Linked DNA regions of Homo sapiens. The protein of the gene in region 2 purifies or fractionates together with the protein of the main gene of each other region. This does not show direct contact. Each region holds a gene or a part of one and is shown on either strand. Other genes may lie near its edges.

Evidence for each region. The genes of interacting proteins can lie anywhere in the genome.
Region 1: the proteins of AADAT (region 2) and TXNRD2 fractionate together in Homo sapiens (co-fractionation; one large-scale study listed by BioGRID). This does not show direct contact.

The regions. Positions count from the first base shown.
Region 1 is NC_000022.11:19,935,319-19,938,818, forward strand, and holds part of TXNRD2 (thioredoxin reductase 2, mitochondrial isoform 5 precursor), read right to left. Parts: intron 2,862-3,500; exon of another isoform or gene 2,509-2,861; coding exon of another isoform or gene 1,543-2,508; exon of another isoform or gene 521-1,542; intron 1-520. Other genes in the region: endogenous retrovirus group K member 24 Gag polyprotein-like, read left to right, coding at 1,543-2,508. UniProt on the Homo sapiens protein: Involved in the control of reactive oxygen species levels and the regulation of mitochondrial redox homeostasis. Maintains thioredoxin in a reduced state. May play a role in redox-regulated cell signaling.
Region 2 is NC_000004.12:170,062,840-170,065,956, forward strand, and holds part of AADAT (kynurenine/alpha-aminoadipate aminotransferase, mitochondrial), read right to left. Parts: intron 1,987-3,117; coding exon 1,880-1,986; intron 91-1,879; exon of another isoform or gene 1-90. UniProt on the Homo sapiens protein: Transaminase with broad substrate specificity. Has transaminase activity towards aminoadipate, kynurenine, methionine and glutamate. Shows activity also towards tryptophan, aspartate and hydroxykynurenine.

The DNA.
Region 1 (3,500 bases), on a different chromosome or scaffold from region 2:
CTCAGGCTTATTAGGGTGGGGAAAAAACTCCGTCCTGGTAAATTTGTGGTCAGACTGGTTCTCTGCTCTTAAACCATGTTTTCCGTTGTTTAAGATGTTTATCAAGACAATATGTGCACAGCTGAACATAGACCCTTATCAGGAGTTCTGATTTTGCCCTTGTCCTGTTTCCTCAGAAGCATGTGATCTTTGCTCTGCCTTTTGCCCTTTGAAGCATGTGATCTTTGTGACCTACTCCCTATTGGCACAACCCCTCCCCTTTTAAAATCCTTAATAAAAACTTGCTGGTTTTGCGGCTCAGGTGGGCATCATGGTCCTACCGATACGTGATGTCACCCCCAGCAGCCCAGCTGTAAAATTCCTCTTTGTACTCTTTCTCTTCATTTCTCAGCCGGCTGACACTTACAGAAAATAGAAAGAACGTACGTTGAAATATTAGGGGCAGGTTCCCCCAATATCTGGCGCCCAACGTGGTTTTCTTTTTCCTAAGTGCATGTGGGAACCCGATTCCCTTTGGTAGGTGCGGAGAAATGTTCATCGGTCCAGTCCACAGAAATGCTTGTTTGGCTCCCCAACGATTGGTGAGTTGTCTGTGTATTCTCCGGGGTAACTATGGGTCACGCAGAGTCTAAACATTATGCTTATCTCTGCTATATTAAATTCCTGTTAAAATGGGGGAGTTCGGGTTCCCATGGAAAATATGGTCACCCTATTCAGGGCAGTGGAAGAACACTGTCCTTGGTTTCCTGAAAAGGGAACGTTAGATGTGGAACTATGGGATCATGTTGGTGCAAAATTCCGAGAACTGGTCCCAACAGGAAATTATGTTCCTGTCACTGTTTGGGGTGATTGGGCCTTGGTACGTGCCATCCTAATGACATACCAATCCCGTGACACCCTGCAGTTACCACAGTTTTCTGAATCTGGCCACCCTCTACCTCTTCCTCAGCTTTCCTCTCCCACTCGGCCTTCATTATCTGCTCAGCCCCTCCCTTTGCCTACTCCTCCCCCACCTGACGATACTGAGGATTCAATATCTAACTCCAGTGACTTTGGCTTAACATCACCCCCTGATGATCTTATTTCTTTTCACGAAGAGCCGACACTTGTAGCTCCTGCGGCCCCAACTCAGACAGCCCAGGACCATATCTATGCTAACTCTTCCCTCTCCAAACCTTTACAGTCTTTGCCTCCGGAGCCATCCAAACTACAATTTACCTGTAATTCTGCAGGCCCTCCCCCATCCACCACAGCCCCTCACCCTCCTATCATTTTGGTCCCTCAACCGGTCACTTTGCCATCCACTCAACCTGCTTCTCTGTACCCTTCTTCATGCAGGGACACCCCTGCCACTCTGGTTGTGCAGGACTGGGCCAGTAATCACCAGTATGCTTCTGCCTCTTCTGCTCCCCCAATGCCCCTTTCTCACACTCTTATACCAGTCCGACCCCGTCAATCTCAGTTTCTCTTATCTATACATACTTTTCCTGTCACTTCTATGCCGACTCTATCTCATGTGCCTGCTCTTGAAACTTTCATGCAATGCTTATTACGCCAAAACAAACAAGTAGATTAGAGGCGTGGGCTTATTCGGTCATGCTGGAACCTCCTAATGCTCAAGGGGTACAAGTGTGTCGATATACGCCGCTCAATCTTACCTTTTTAAAAGAATTCAAGGATGCTTGTACTCAGTATGTTCCTACTTCTCCATATGTTAAAACGGTATTACAGACTCTTTGTACCGAGGTCATTTTGCTTCCTATAGACTGCGACCTTTTGGCAAAAGCTGTTCTAACTCCATCTCAGCATTTACAATTCCATACCTGGTGGTCAGAGGAGGCCCGCCTGCAGGCTCAGCTAAATCGGGCTGATGGCATTCCAATTACTCAGGCTCAGCTCACAGGCTCCGATAATTACTCTGATACTACTGCTCATTTAGGCTTTGATGCTCTCACCACGGAACAAGTAACAAAGGTGTGTATGAGAGCTTGGGATAAATTACGCACCCCAGGCCAAGCTTCTGTTTCTTTTACTATTGTTAAACAGGGTCACAATGAATTATATCTTGATTTTTTAGCTAAATTACAAGATGCTGTTGAAAAATCTGTCTCTGATGAGCACACTCAAGGTATTCTTCTTCATATGTTAGCTTTTCAAAATGCGAACCATGAGTGTAAAATGGCCGTGCATTCCATCCTACGTCAAAATTTACCTGATCATGAGGTGTTGCCTGCATATATTAAAGCTTGTGAAGGCGTTGGATCGGAGACCCACAGAGCTATTCTGTGGGCACCGGCCATGAAGCACGGCAACCAAACTGGCTCGACTGATTCTTTTCTTGGAGCCTGCTATAATTGTGGCCAACTTGGTCATACCCAAAAAAACTACACTGTTAAAAACTTAAAAGCGGCCAAGCCGGCTCAACAAACACGGCCAAATGCTCCTGCTACTGTTTGCCTGCGTTGTCGTAAGGGTAAACATTGGGCAAGTACTTGCCACTCAGTCTGATATAGATGAAAATCCCTTGCCACAGAACCAGGGAAACAGGAAGCAAGGCCAGTCCCAGGCCCCAATATCAAATGGGACACCTCGGACTCAGACCAATGTTGTGTTTTTGCGTCAAGCAGTCCCAACGCAGCCCCCAGCACAAACAAATTTACCTACAGCCAATCCAGATGGGTCCCAGCCTCTTCTTCTGTCTCAGTACAATGCTTGTCTACCTCCACAGTAGGCAGCAGGGCGGTCGATCTCTGTAGTACCATTCCTCTAAATTTACTACCTAATTCTTTGCCTTTAATTGTCCCCATGGGGGTCACTGGCCCTTTACCTCAAGGTTCGGTGGGCCTGGTGTTAGGCAGGGCATCCACCTCATGATACTAAAGGTATCATAGTTCATACTAGTCTCATTAATTCTGATTCCTCTGATGAGATTAAACTTATGTAAACTTATGGTGTCTGCCAAAGTTCCTGTTTCCATTCCGGCCAGTGAGTCAATTGCTCAATTACTTTTACTACCTAACATTGTTTTAAACAAAGGAGATAAGACATGGGGCCCTGGGATGGGCTCCAGCGGTGAAAAAGCCGCTTATTGGATTAATGTAATTTCTAAACAATGGCCTACCTGCACCATACACATTCAAGGAAAAAAGGTTGAGGGCCTAGTTGATACTGGGGCTGATGTTTCTATTATTTCCTCTAATTTATGGCCTTCCTCCTGGCTTAAACATCCCACTAACATGAAACTAGAAGGTGTTAGAAAAGCTGAAGAAGTTCACCAGAGCACATTTATCTTGGCTTGCACTGGCCCTGATGGTCAAAAGGGAACAATTCAGCCTTATATCATGCCCATCCCCATTAATCTTCGGGGCAGAGATTTGCTGGCACAAATTGGGGCTGAAATTAATATTCCACATAACTTTTACAGTGCTCCCAGTCAACATATAATGGAAAACATGGGGTTTGTTTCCAGACTCGGTCTCGGTCCAAAACGTGAAAAAATT
Region 2 (3,117 bases):
AAGAATGAAAAGCAATGAGATGTAAGAAACCCGGGTCTCTGAATCACTGTTGGAACACAGAGGGTTGCAGGTCACATCTTAGAATTATATGTGAGTCAGAGATAAATTTCTATTGCTTATTAAGTCTTTGAGATTTTCAAGTTTATCTTCTGTGGTGGTTAGGGTTGACTAGTATAATCATGATCTTCAACAGCATTGAGTAACTGCTTGTTACACTGTCTGCTAAGACAAGAGGAGTTGGGAGTGATATGATTTGGAGTACTCTGGGCAAAAGATTTCAAGGCAGAAGATGGGTTTCTCTGTCCTGGTTGAAAATAAAATGAAAACCATCATTTCTCTCAGTAGCATGGAAAAGTTCTGGGATGTACTAGAAGCAAGGAGCTGAAAGAGAAGGGAGTGGTGGTAATCTCTTCACAAGATAACCAACATCTGGGCTGACAAAGTGGGGATAAAGCTGGAGATTATTTAGAAAAGGTAAAAAAAGAACATGTAGCAGGATATATGGGATAAATGAAGAGGACTGAAGAAGAGTAGAGTAAAAACAAAGTCTATATCCTTAGCGCCTCGCTTAGACATACCTACAGATAACCACTTACCACATATTTTGAGGATAATGGCATTGACAGAAAAGAATGTATCAAATTGATTTATTATACTACAATGCATTTATTTGAAGTAAGTCAATTGTTTATCAAGTACCTACTATGTGCTGTGATTAGGGTTAGAACAATTAATGAAGTCTGAGTCCTGCCCTCAAGTAAGATGGCTAAGAGAGGATAATAGCTTTCCCAAGGTGGTGGAGGTAGGACTGAAGTCCAGGCAGTCTGTCTCTAGCTCTAACTTCTAGAGCACCTTGTCTCTTATGCACCAGCATGGCACTTTGCCATCATCAATCCAATCTGTCCTTTAGTTCTTATGATTCAAGACAAAAGTGAATCTAGCAGTAGGGTTTCAGTGTGTATAAAAGACTGACAAACATGCAAATGGCTTTAATTAATGGAGAAGGAATAATTTATCTGGTAAACTGGAAAGCTACACAGAAAAATATTTAGAATTTTCAGCTTACTTGATGCCTCCAATGAAACCTAAGTAGATTTATAATTTAAATATAAAAAGAGGAAAAAAAAAAGAAACCTAGAATACATTCTATGAGCTAATTTTAAGTGAAAAAAAAATCAGGATACAAACTTTTCTGTATAATTTTAACTATGTAACATAAGTGCACAGCCAAAATACTGTAAGAACAAGCTTTTCAAGGAACTATACTATAAATGGTCACAAAATCTGGGTAGTAAAATCATGGGCTATTTAAAAAATTTTCATTATGCTTTTATACATTTTCCAAATATCCTACCACGAGTATACTTTATCTCCATCATCAGAAAACAAACCCTTCATTTTAAATACTAGTGGCTAATACTTACTGAGCACTGAGTATGTGCCACATACTAGTCTAAGGGCTTTACATATATTAACTCACTTAATCATCAGAGCAACCCTATGAGAGAGGGATTCTTATTACCTCTGTTTTACAGACAAAGCACAGAAAGGGTAACCTATTCAAGGCCACACATCCCCTAAGGGGTGGTGCTGGGATTCAAACCCAACAGGTGTGGCTCCGGAGACTACCCTCAGCCACTACGCTAATCAGTAGCTGAGATGAACAACTATATTTCCACTAATTTAGACCAGCTGGATAATTACGTAACCCAAAAACCTCTTACGATTTTGATAATGCAATAAAATATCTAATATTAGAACATTATGAGTTGGCTGGTGGGCAACAAGAAACATTTCTTTCCATTCTATTCAAGCAAAATATTAAAGAAAAAGTATAACTTTTCCTTAGGTTTCCCAGCCCTTCACCTCCCAGTTTTACCCCCATCTTAACGGCCTTTTCTTCAATCAGTTCTTTTACATCATTAATGCCTTTAACTTTAATCCATAAAAACATTCCAGCAGCAGGAACATGCCATTCTGCCAAACCTACAAACAAAAGAAGAGAATAAATGTCTTCCAAAGGAAGGCATTTTTGATGATATCAAAGTGTGTTGTTAAATGGCATAAGTATAGTAAGTAGAAACTAGTATTCCTAAAAAAGTTCCTTCAATTATAGCATTTTTAAAAATATCATTTTGTGAGCCTTCAAAATTGATGTTCTGGGTTTTATTTCAAAGAGTTACTGTGGGTGAGGGAAGAAGGGAGGGGTAGGGTGGGCAAGTGAATAGCTCGCGTGTGCGTATTTACAATGTAGTCAGTCTTAGGGTAGTGCAAGAAATCCCACTCCTCTCTCCTTCACTTAGAACCATACCTAGACAAACATGGCTATTTCAATTTAGAAGAGGATTCTTCCATTATTTGTGGATTCTTCCAGCATTACAACAAATCCTAGTATTCTTGTAATAGTTTAGATGTCCAGTGGATTAGCGTTTTTATCAGAATGTAATTAATTATGAAAAGAAATACTTAAAATTCAAGAATTCCAGAAGCAGTTGTGGGCTTTACGTTTCATTGAGTATTAGGATAGAGAAATCAAAAACAAGCATAATGATCTTTGATTTAAATTACTATCTTTTTAAAAAAAGAACTTGCTGTTGATTCAAAGTTTTTCTTCAGTACTATTATGCAAAGTGGTAAAATAATGCTATTGTCAGAAAGATACTAATTCTGTTTTTTTTTTTTTGGATGGAGTTTTGCCTCACCCAGGCTGGAGTGCAATGGCATGATCTTGGCTCACTGCCACCTCTGCCTTCCAGGTTCAAGTGATTCTCCTGCCTTAGCCTCCGAAGTAGCTGAGATTACAGGTGCCCGCCATCACGCCCAGCTAATTTTTATATTTTTAGTAGAGATGGGGTTTCACCATGTTGGCCAGGCTGGTCTGGAACTCCTGACCTCAGGTGATCCACCCACCTTGGCCTCCCAAAGTGCTGGGATTACAGGCATGAGCCACTGCACTCAGCCACTAATTCTGTTTTTACCAAGACTTTATAGAAAATAAGATAGGACAGAAATAAGGAATTGCTATTTTTGGTTTACTATTATTTATATCAAAGGCATTTTAATAATATAATTAAAGCCATATGATTAATTTGACCTTCATAATAAAAAAAGAATCTA